Linked DNA regions of Homo sapiens: region 2 is linked to region 1. Evidence: fine-mapped expression QTL. A gene starts in region 1. The other region holds a variant in brackets. All regions are shown on one strand. Distances are from middle to middle. Region 1 holds the start of PGPEP1L (pyroglutamyl-peptidase I like). Region 2 overlaps PGPEP1L (pyroglutamyl-peptidase I like).

The links. PIP is the estimated chance that this variant, and not a neighbour inherited with it, causes the effect. A credible set is the group of variants that fine-mapping cannot tell apart.
Region 2: its variant is the best candidate, but not a certain one, in a credible set for the expression of PGPEP1L in left ventricle (GTEx, PIP 0.62).

What each region holds. Positions count from the first base shown.
Region 1 is chr15:99,005,598-99,011,123 of GRCh38, forward strand. It overlaps PGPEP1L (pyroglutamyl-peptidase I like), which reads right to left and starts at 2,195. Exons shown (of 5, transcript NM_001167902.2): 1 at 1,762-2,195; 2 at 1-59.
Region 2 is chr15:98,976,076-98,981,075 of GRCh38, forward strand. The region is part of intron 2 of PGPEP1L (pyroglutamyl-peptidase I like); the gene reads right to left. Among named protein-coding and RNA genes, the nearest start is that of PGPEP1L, 29 kb to the right of the region's middle. The variant G/A (reference allele first, on the strand shown) is at 2,802.

The DNA.
Region 1 (5,526 bases):
CCCAACCCCTCCTGGCCGCCCGGCGTCCGTAGCGTTCTGGGCCCCGAAAGGCCAAGGATCTAGGGGAGGGTGATAAAGCAATGCCCCTTGAAAGCAGAACGATCCAGCTCAGGACAGCGGGTTGGAGCGCCAGCAGGGACTTTCTGGACATTTGAGTCTGGGTCACTTTGTTGTTCAGGATGGTTCAAAGGTGAGCTAAGGGTTTGGCTACCAGCTGTCCCGGTTTGCCTGGGACAGAAGGATGTCTGGGACGGAACACCACATGGTGCTCAAAGAGGTACTGTCCTAGGAACTGTGGGCTACCCTACAAGTCGTTTACTTAGATCTTATTTTTTCCTCTTTAGTAATCCCTGCCAGAGCCCCTCATTGTGTTTGGCCATTATGATTTGGTAAAATTTGATTGCTCTGAAAACTAATTCCACAAAATATGTGAGATGTGAGCAGAAAAAAAAGAGAGAAAACCATAGATGAATCTTATGGCGCCTGCCTTTAAAATATTGATTGCAAGCACCGCTGCCTAGGAGCTGTGGGTCCTCAGGGAAGTTAACCTCTGTGCTCAGGTTTCCTGTTTTGAGAAACGAGGATCGCAGCACCGGATCCTGTATGGATTCTTTCTGTGCCCCAGGCACTGTCCCCAGCTTCATCAGCCCTGAGGAACAGAGGCTTGCCACCTAGCTAGCGTCTGTGCAAGCTTGCTAGCTCTGTGCTCACCACCCTGCGTTCTACCTGCGAAAAGTGCTTTCTTGACACTGTGCTGGACTCCTTAAACATGCCACTGACAGTGAGCCACAGCCGTGGCATGCCACCTGGCTCTGCAGACAGTCCTCTTTTTAATGTGTCAGAATAACTGAAAAAGGCTAACATTTGAGGCTATTTCCTCTATCGAAAAAGCTGTTTTCCAATATCTTGATCTTTCGGAGAATTCTATTTAAAAACAAAACAAACTTTTGGCCAGGTGCACTGGCTCACGCCTTTAATTTCAGCATTTTGAGAGGCCAAGGTAGGAGGATAGCCTGAGGCCAGGAGTTCAAGATCAACCTGGGCAACGTGGCAAGACTGCATCAATTATTTTTTTCAAAACGTGGTATATGCCCATAGTCCTGGCTTCTCAGGGAGGCTGAAGCGGGAGGATCACTTGAGCCGTCAGTCGTAACTGCACCTCTGCACTCCACCCTGGGTGACAGAGTGAGACCCTGTCTCTAAAAATATTCTTAAACTTTTTTTTAAACTGAAAATACTTTTTTCCTGAAGCTGTATATTAAGAGGAAGAAGACCCATGATTCTCTGTCCCCATCTAGGTCTGGGGAGGAGAAGCTCCCTTCAGGGAAGCAGGCAGAGCCTCTCAAGCACCCTGCGGCCTCTAGAGAGCTCAGTGTGACAGCAGGACCACGTGGCTCCATCTGCTGAATTGTCCTCCTGATATAAAGCGCTCCCTTTTAATTGGGATCACCCCCGCGGATTAGACCCCCCTTGGTGGCTTTCTGGGATTCTGAACCAGGAACAATTCCCTTTAATTAGCTCCTGGTGTGGGCTGCAGGCCTCTTCACTGCCAACAGGTGGGAAGCGCCATTTGCTCCCACTAGTCTCCCACTCCCTGTCCTGAGAAGCTGGGCCCACCTTGCCATGAGTGGGATGCAGAGGATTTTTGTACTTTGCCTCATTTCACAGAAGTTACCCGGTTTCTCAATATACCCCGGATGCACTTGTAGACTTGGTCTCTACCTCCTCTGGTGAGCAGCTCTCCTAGCTCCTATCACTTACCTAGTTCCGTCATGGTGTGTCCAGAATCGGCGGATTCTTGGTCTCACTGACTTCAAGAACGAAGCCGCGGACCCTGGCGGTGAGTGTTACAGTTTTTAAAGGCAGCGTGTCCCAAGTTTGTTTCTTCTGATGCTCGCATGTGTTCGGAGTTTCTTCCTTCTGGCAGATTCGTGATCTCGCTGACTTCAGGAGTGAAGCTACGGACCTTCATCATGAGTGCTACGGCTCTTAAGGTGGCGTGTTTGGAGTTATTCGTTTCTCCCGGTGGGTCCGTGATGTGGCTGGCTTTAAGAACGAAGCTGCAGACCTTCACGGTGAGCGTTACAGCTCATAAAGGCAGTGCGGACCCAAACAGTAAGCAGCAGCAACGGTTATTGCAAACAAGCAAAACAACAAAACTTCCACAGCACAGAAGGCGACTCCAGCAAGTTGCTACTGCTACCTGGGGCAGCCTGCTTTTATTCTCTTATCTGGCCCCACCCACATCCTGCTGATTGGTCCATTTTACAGAGAGCCGATTGGTCTGTTTTACAGAGAGCTGATTGGTCCGTTTTGACAGGGTGCTGATGGGTGCGTTTACAATCCTGGAGCTGGACACAAAAGTTCTCCACGTCCCCACTAGATTAGCTAGATACAGAGTGTGGACACAAAGGTTCTCCAAGTCCCCACCAGAGTAGCTAGATACAGAGCGTCGATTGGTGCATTCACAAACCCTGAGCTAGACACAGGGTGCTGATTGGTGTGTTTACAAACCTTGAGCTAGATACAGAGTGCCCATTGGTGTATTTACAATCCCTTAGTTAAACATAAAGGTTCTCCAAGTCCCTTCCAGACTCAGAAGCCCAGCTGGCTTCACCCAGTGGATCCCGCACCAGGGCCGCAGGTGGAGCTGCCTGCCAGTCCTGTGCAGTGCGCCTGCACTCCTCAGCCGTTGGGTGGTCGATGGGACTGGGTCCTGTGGAGCAGGGGGCGGCACTCGTGGGGGAGGCTCAGGCCGCGCAGGAGCCCATGACGCGGGGGAGGAGGCTCAGGTATGGCGGGCTGCAGGTCCCGAGCCATGCCCCGCACGGAGGCAGCTAAGGCCCCGCGAGAAGTCGAGCACTAACAGCTGCTGGCCCAGGTGCTAAGCCCCTCACTGCCCGTGGCCGGCGGGGCGGGCTGGCTGCTTGGAGTGCGGGGCCCGCCGAGCCCACGCCCACCCGGAACTCGCACTGGCGCGCAAGCGCGGCGTGCAGCCCCGGTTCCCGCCCGCGTCTCTCCCTCCACACCTCCCCGCAAGCTGAGGGAGCCGGCTCTGGCTTTGGCCAGCCCAGGAAGGGGCTCCCACAGTGCAGCGGCGGGCTGAAGGGCTCCTCAAGTGCCGTTAAAGTGGGAGCCCAGGCAGAGGAGCCGAGAGTGAGTGACGGCTGCGAGGCCTACCAGCATGTTGTCACCTCTCAGTGGGGGCTTGGCTTCCTCTGCACAGTTAAAGGAAGAGATTGGACCATTAAGAAATGCCCACTTCTTCTTTTTTTTTTTTTTTCAGATGTAGTCTCGCTCTGTTGCCCAGGCTGGAGTGCAGTGGCGCGATCTCGGCTCACTGCAGCCTCCGCCTCCCAGGTTCAAGCAGTTCTCTCCCTCAGCCTCCGGAGTAGCTGGGATTACAGGCACCTGCCACCAGCCCTGGCTATTTTTTGTATTTTTAGTAGAGACAGAGTTTGACCATCTTGGCCAGGCTGGTCTTGAACTCCTGACCTCGTGATCCACCTGCCTCGGCCTCCCAAAGTGCTGTGATTACAGGCGTGAGCCACCGCGCCCGTCCAGAAATGCCCACATTTGTAAAGTTGGTTGCTGCTAGGGTCCAACTCTGCTATCAACATTCACCTATGAGGTCTGGGAATGGGAACTTGTGTTTAAGGAGACTCCTTAAGTGCAAAGACTGCCCATCTTTAACCATACTACTTTTCTGATAACAAAGCTGAAATTTTCATCATTTTTTTTTTGATTTGACAGGAGCTATTATTTTAACTAAACTGGAATGTGTCCTGCAGTTTTCACTTTCCCATAATTCACTTATTTTTTTCTGTTCTAAAGTTTTCTCTAATTTTGAAATTAATAGAAAAAACAACACAAAATATTTTACTTAGTCACAGTGATATGTCTATTTTTGTATTCATTCACCTCCCCTCTCCCCACACAAGAACCCCCCAGCACATTCCTACTTTCTGGAATGAAAATAGCTCTGAGAAGTATGGATTTTGAGGTTCAACATCTGCACTTTTATTTCTTTTTCCATTGTAAAAACAAATGGTCTCTAATAATTGATGTCAAACACAGTCTTTAGGCTGATGAAATACAGTAAGCCTGAGAACGAATAAGGCAACTAAATGGAGCTGTTTTATTTAACAGAGAGCACAGTGATCTTCCTTACAAGCGGGATTCCCGAGAGGAAAATGTTTGTAATCAGATTTGACTCTAGGATTAAGAGGGCAAGGTGCGACCCTCTTAGTGAACCGGAAAGTAAGCAACGGTACACAAGTGTTCTCACCAGGGACAGCAAATGGGAGTTGCCAAGATTACAAGATCCCAAGACCTCAACTATTTCACGTGCTGAACTAAACTCAAAACTTTGTGGGATTTGTTTTAAATTTCTCATTGGCAAGTGGTGACTTCCTGCTCTCGCAAGAAAAAAGATTAAAGGGGTTTGTTTACTGTCTCTGACACAAACAGCTCTTACAACACATTTTGTACACTTGACATAAATGAAATTTAATCAAACTGGTCAAATTCCTTTGGGAGGTGGGGAGAAAATAAATCAATCAGCAAGAAGCACTTGTGATTTCCAAAATAATGATAACATAAGTCTTTCTCCATGTCAAACATCACTGTTTCCAGATAAGCGACTTAGCTCTACTATAAAACACAACCCATAGCCAAATTGCTTCTTGTCAAAGCACTAAGGGATCCTCCAATAATGTCACTCTACCAAGGCAGATTCAGAACTCACCCTCCTCTATACCTCTGCCTCTGCAGCTTTGTACCCCAGCAGGGGCCAGCCAGCACACGATTTCTGAAAAGGGCCATAAAATAAATGAATAAATGTAGTAGACTTTTTTTTTTTTTTTTTTGAGACAGGGTCTCACTCTGTGGCCCAAGCTGGAGTGCAGTGGTGCAATCTCGGTTCACTGCAACCTCCGCCTCCCGGTTCAAGCAATTCTCGTGCCTCAGCCTCCTGAGTAGCTGGGATTACAGGTGTGCACCACCACACCCGGCTAATTTTAGTAGTGCCTGTAGTCGCAGCTAATCGGGAGGCTGAGGGAGGAGAATGGCGTGAACCTGGGAGGCAGAGCTTGCAGTGAGCCGAAATCGCATGCTGCACTCCAGCCTGGGCGACAGAGTGAGACTCTGTCGCAAGGTGATATTTCTGTTACATTTTGTAGGAGAAGGATTTGTCTTTATTTTTCTTCTGTCTTATATTTTTCCCTCAGACTTTTGCTAAGCCTTGATCACTTTTTTTTTTAGGGACTACAGCTCCTTGACTGCAAAGTAACAACTGTTGCAAAAGGAAGTTTTCTACTTGTTAAAATCCAGTAGCTTGTTACCCCTATTGTTTAAATACTGGATTTTTCTTTCAAATTTCACAAATATCTTAGGAATGACTGGAACATTTGTGTTCTTAACACTGAGGAAATTCCTGTGTAGACAAATGAGGCCAGATGGAGGGTGCAGCAGAGAGCTTAATATCCTCTTGGAATGGAAGAGGGGCCACACTAAAACATGCACCAG
Region 2 (5,000 bases), 30 kb before region 1:
TGGAGGGTTATTGTTAATGAACACAGAGTGTTAGTGTGGGACAATGGAAAGTTCTAGACACGATAGTAATGATAGTTGTACAACAATGTGAATGTACTTAATGCCACTTACTTGTACACTTTAAAGGGTTAAAATGGTAAATTTAATGTTATACATCAATGTTATACATATTTTACCATAATTTTAAGAAAATTATGGCTTTCACCATCACCAACATTTTTTAACCTGACTAAAAAGTTTGCTCTGAACGAAGACTAAATCCGTAGTAAATCATTTAGCTCAGGCTAACATCCCTCAGGGATAATAATTAAGTTGGGATTTTAACTAAGCATACTCTTTTCCATATCTGAAAGCCTTCTAGAGTTCTATGGAATCACAATCTAAAAGTCATTTTCTCATATCACAACAATAAAATCTGAAGCCTAACAGTATTTAAGCTGCTGGTTTGCTGAAAATGTCTCAGGACTTGAGGTGTCCTGAAGAGAAATCATTATGGATGGCAATTATTCCCATATAAATGCTGTATTGCAAAAACCCAGATCAAAACATAGATGTTTTCCTAGGAACAGAAGAGGCAAGGAGGGGCAGTGGCCACTCCAGAATTTTCTGGTGGCTGAGGCCTGAGCACGGTGAGCTGGCTGGAGGAGGGCATGGTCTTGGTAAGGGAAGCTCATGAGTAGATTATGTTTACTTGCTGCATCTCAGAGACATGAGTAAAGACATGAAAATTTTAGTGGAGATAATACATTTTTACAGATTATTATTTTATTTCACTGAATTATCACAGCAACCTTTCAAGTTAACAAGAGGAGAAACAAGGAGGGCCTGGTCAACTTGGGCCTCATGCTCCTCACCTGTATAATGGGTACAACAATACTGTATCCACCATAATGATTATTAGGACCCTAGAGAGGTCAAGTAAAATGGCAAAAAAAAAAAAAAAAAAACAAGTCTGTAGTGACTTTGATAAGAGTAGTTTGAGTATGGAACCAGGCCTGGAGGCCAGGCCATGGTAAATATATTTAAAAGTTAATAGAAATGGTCTTTTATTTTTTTTCTTGATCAATCTAAATGAAGGTTTATCAATTTTATTAATTTTCTCAAAATATTAACTTTTGGGTTTTGGTTTGATTTCTATTGTTATATTTCTGCTACTTCATTGATTTCTGCTTTCATCTTTACTATTACCTTTCTTCTGCTTAGTTTAATTTGTTCTGTTAGTTTCTTAAGATAGAAATCAAAGTCACTGATTTGAGAACTTTCTTCTGCTATAATATTGTTTAGTGCCATAAATTTCCCTCTGATATGTTTTAATTTTCATTCATTTCAAAATGCTTGCTAATTTCCTTTTTATGTCTCCTTTCATCTCTGGCTTATTTAGAAGTATCTTGTTTGGTTTCCAAAATTTAGGAAATTTCCAGATGTCTGTTATTGATTTCTAATTAAAATCCACTGTGGCCAGAGAACACACTTTATGTGACCTGAATCCTTTTGAATTTATTCAGACTGGTTTTATGGCCCAGGGTATAGTCTCTGTCTTGGCAAACACTGCATATGCACATATGAGAGTGTGTTCCATGCTGGGTGGAGTGTTCTACAAATGTCAATGAGGTCTGGTAGGTTGGTAGTGTTGTTAAAGTCTGCTGTATCCTTTTTGGTCTATGTGTTCTGTCCGTTATTGAGAGGGGTACTGAAATCGTTGACTATTAACTGTGAATTTATCTATTCTCCTTAAAGTTCTATTAGTTTTTGCTGCACGTATTTTACAAGCACTGTTATTAGGAGCATGAATGTTTACATCTATTATGTCTTATTTATTGACCATGGTTCATTGAATGCTTAATACCTAATTGCTACACGACATTCTGACTCCACATTGTGAGCTCTAGAACACAGCTCTCAAGGGAGGTAAAGGTCAGGAATAGTCTTACAAGTGGGCAAAAAATAGGGTGAGCCCAGCAGGCTGTTGGCTGAGGGCTGCTGCCCAAAAGGCATCTTGTGGCTCCCCAACCATTTCCCCATCTCTTGGGGACCCAGTGCCTGAAATTTCACCTCCAGAGATCTTTTCGGTTCATTAGTCCCTGTCTAGATAATTTTGCAAATGCCTGCAAGAGAGGAAACACAGCAGCACACATGCTTCCCTGATGAAAGAGAAGGCGCTGTGTGTGAGCACTAGGGCCCAGAGTGGAACCCGAAACTGGGAGAGTCGGGGCACCCCTGAGAGGTGCAACTTCCCAAGGCTGGTCTGGGGTATGGAGTAATCATCTGTGATTACAGATGTCAGTGTAGAGTCCAGGGACCTAATTAATGGCATCTCAAACTGGCTCACAGCCTGCAGGCCCAGGCAGGCCTACTGGATTTTGGAATCCCAGATTTGGCATCTGTAATGTAATGCTGACATTTTTCAAGATTTGTACCATGGAAGTGGATGTGAGGATGGAGATGAGAAAAGGTTTGCCCAGTAGACTTCCCTTTTTTGTTTTTTCCCCAAAAAAAACTGTGTAGAACGGAAAAGAACTAAGACTTATCTTCTGAATCCTGGACCAAATTAGACATTCTGCTGCCCTAAGTAACCTGCCTGATTTCCAGGGCCCCACTTATTTGTGTCTTTTTCTCTAGCATTAGACTGTGTATATATATATATATATATATTTTTTTTTTTTTTTTTTTTTTGAGGCACAGTCTTGCTCTGTCACCAGGCTGGAGTGCGGTGGCATGATCTCGGCTCACCGCAACCTCCGCCTCCCGGGTTCAAGCAATTCTCCTGCCTCAGCCTCCCGAGTAGCTGGGACTACAGGCAC[G/A]CGCCATCACGCCCAGTTAATTTTTGTGTTTTTAGTAGAGATGGGGTTTTACCATGTTGGCCAGGATGGTCTCGATCTCTTGACCTCGTGATCCGCCCACCTTGGCCTCCCAAACTGCCGGGATTACAGGTGTGAGCCGCCGCGCCTGGCTACAGGATATATATATATATATATTTTTATTACATTTATGGCAGCACAAATATAGCCCCAATGCCCTCAAGATTCTGGTCTGGATTCTGTGAAACAAGATAAACAGGTCAGACTGTTTCCCATGCTGACAGAGTGCGTAACCCAGGAAGGATGTGATGGATTTCATCAAATCTAAGTCCCAGAGATGGAACATCGAGCATTACTGTACGAACCAGCAAGACAGTAAAAGTACTGCTCAACTATGACAAAGCATAAGATGCAGCTGCCTGTGAGATTCATCTGATTTCAGGATGCCAAAATTAAAACAAAAAAAAAACCAAAAAACACCTGGCTCTTTGCATCAATAAAATATGGTAGGCGATGAGTACAAGAACAGGAGGACATGCACATAGCAACACAGCACAGACTTCTATATATAAGTAGTGTGGTTATTTAATAAGTGCCCAACAATTTGCAATTGCAGAAATGTGAAACCAGCCCAAATTCCCATCAATCAATGAGTGGATAAAGAAACTGCGGTATATAGATAGGATGGAATACTACTCAGCCATAAAAAGAAATGTATTAATGGCATTTATAGCAACCTGGATGGGATTGGAGACTATTCTTTTTTTTTTTTTTTTTTTTTTTTTTTTTTTTTTGGAGACAGAGTCTCACTCTGTCACCCAGGCTGGCGTGCCATGGCACAATCTTGGCTCACCGCAACTCTGCCTCCCGGGTTCAAGCGATTCTTCTGCCTCAGCCACCACAGTAGCTGGGACTACAGGCGAGTGCCACCACACCCGGCTAATTTTTGTATTTTTAGTAGAGATGGGGTTTTACCATATTGACCAGGCTGGTCTCGAACTCCTGACCTTGTGATCTGCCTGCCTCGGAGACTATTATTCTAAGTGAAGTAACTCAGGAATGGAAAACCAAACACCATATGTCCTCACTCATAAGTGGGAGCTAAGCTATGAGGATGCAAAGGCATAAGAATGATACAATGGACACTGGGGACTCGATGGGAAAGGGTGGGAAGCAGGTGAGGGATGAAAGACTACAAATTGGGTTCATGTATACTGCTTGGGTGATGCTGCACCAAAATCTCACAAATCACCACTAAAGAACTTACTCATGTGACCAAATACCACCTGTTCCCCAAAAACTTATGAAAATAAAGAATAAATAAATGAAAAGTGTCCAACTTAGTCTAACTTTTAATACAGCTAAACACACAGCCATAAAAACAAAGTGTGGACTCGTGCCATTTCCCTTGGAGCAGAGAAACCTGAACGATCAGGGAGGCATTGTCCTAGGATAGTAAAGGGAGGAGGGGGGAGGAAAAGGTTTCAGGAGGAGACAGACTTTCAAAAGGAAACAAGCCATAGGCCAAAATATGAGAAATAAATATTCATGAGTCCATCCTGATCTAATGAAATGACTACATACATAAGTAAACAAATAAGTAAGTGGGTCCAGGAGGAGGACTCAGCTCTCTCATGCACTTGCACTCCCAGTAACCGATGTAACTCCTCTACCCTGAAGCAGAGAGGAACTCCCCCACTCGAGTGTGGGCTGCGCAGAGTTACTTCCTTCCAAAGAGGACAGGATAGAAGTGGGGACAAAAAGTAACTGTATGGTGGCCAGGTGCAGTGGCTCACGCCTGTAATCCCAGCACTTTGGGAGGCCGAGGTGGACGGATCACCTGAGGTCAGGAGTTTGAGACCAGCCTGGCCAAAAGAGTGAAACCCCGTCGCTACTAAAAATACAAAAATTAGCCAGGCGTGGTGGCATGTGCCTGTAGTCCCAGCTGTTCAGGAGGCTGAGCCAGGAGAATTGCTCGAACCTGGGGGGCAGAGCTTGCACTGAGCCAAGATCACCCCCACTGCACACTAGCCTCAGTGACACAGAGAGACTCCATCTGGAAAAGGAAAAAAAAAAAAATTAACTGTATGGTAGAGAGGCCTGACAAACACTCCCTCCACCAAGTAAGATCAAGGTCATCATGGACAGTGCTGTCACACTGATACTGTGTGCCCTTGATCTGACAGGATGAAAGTGACACTT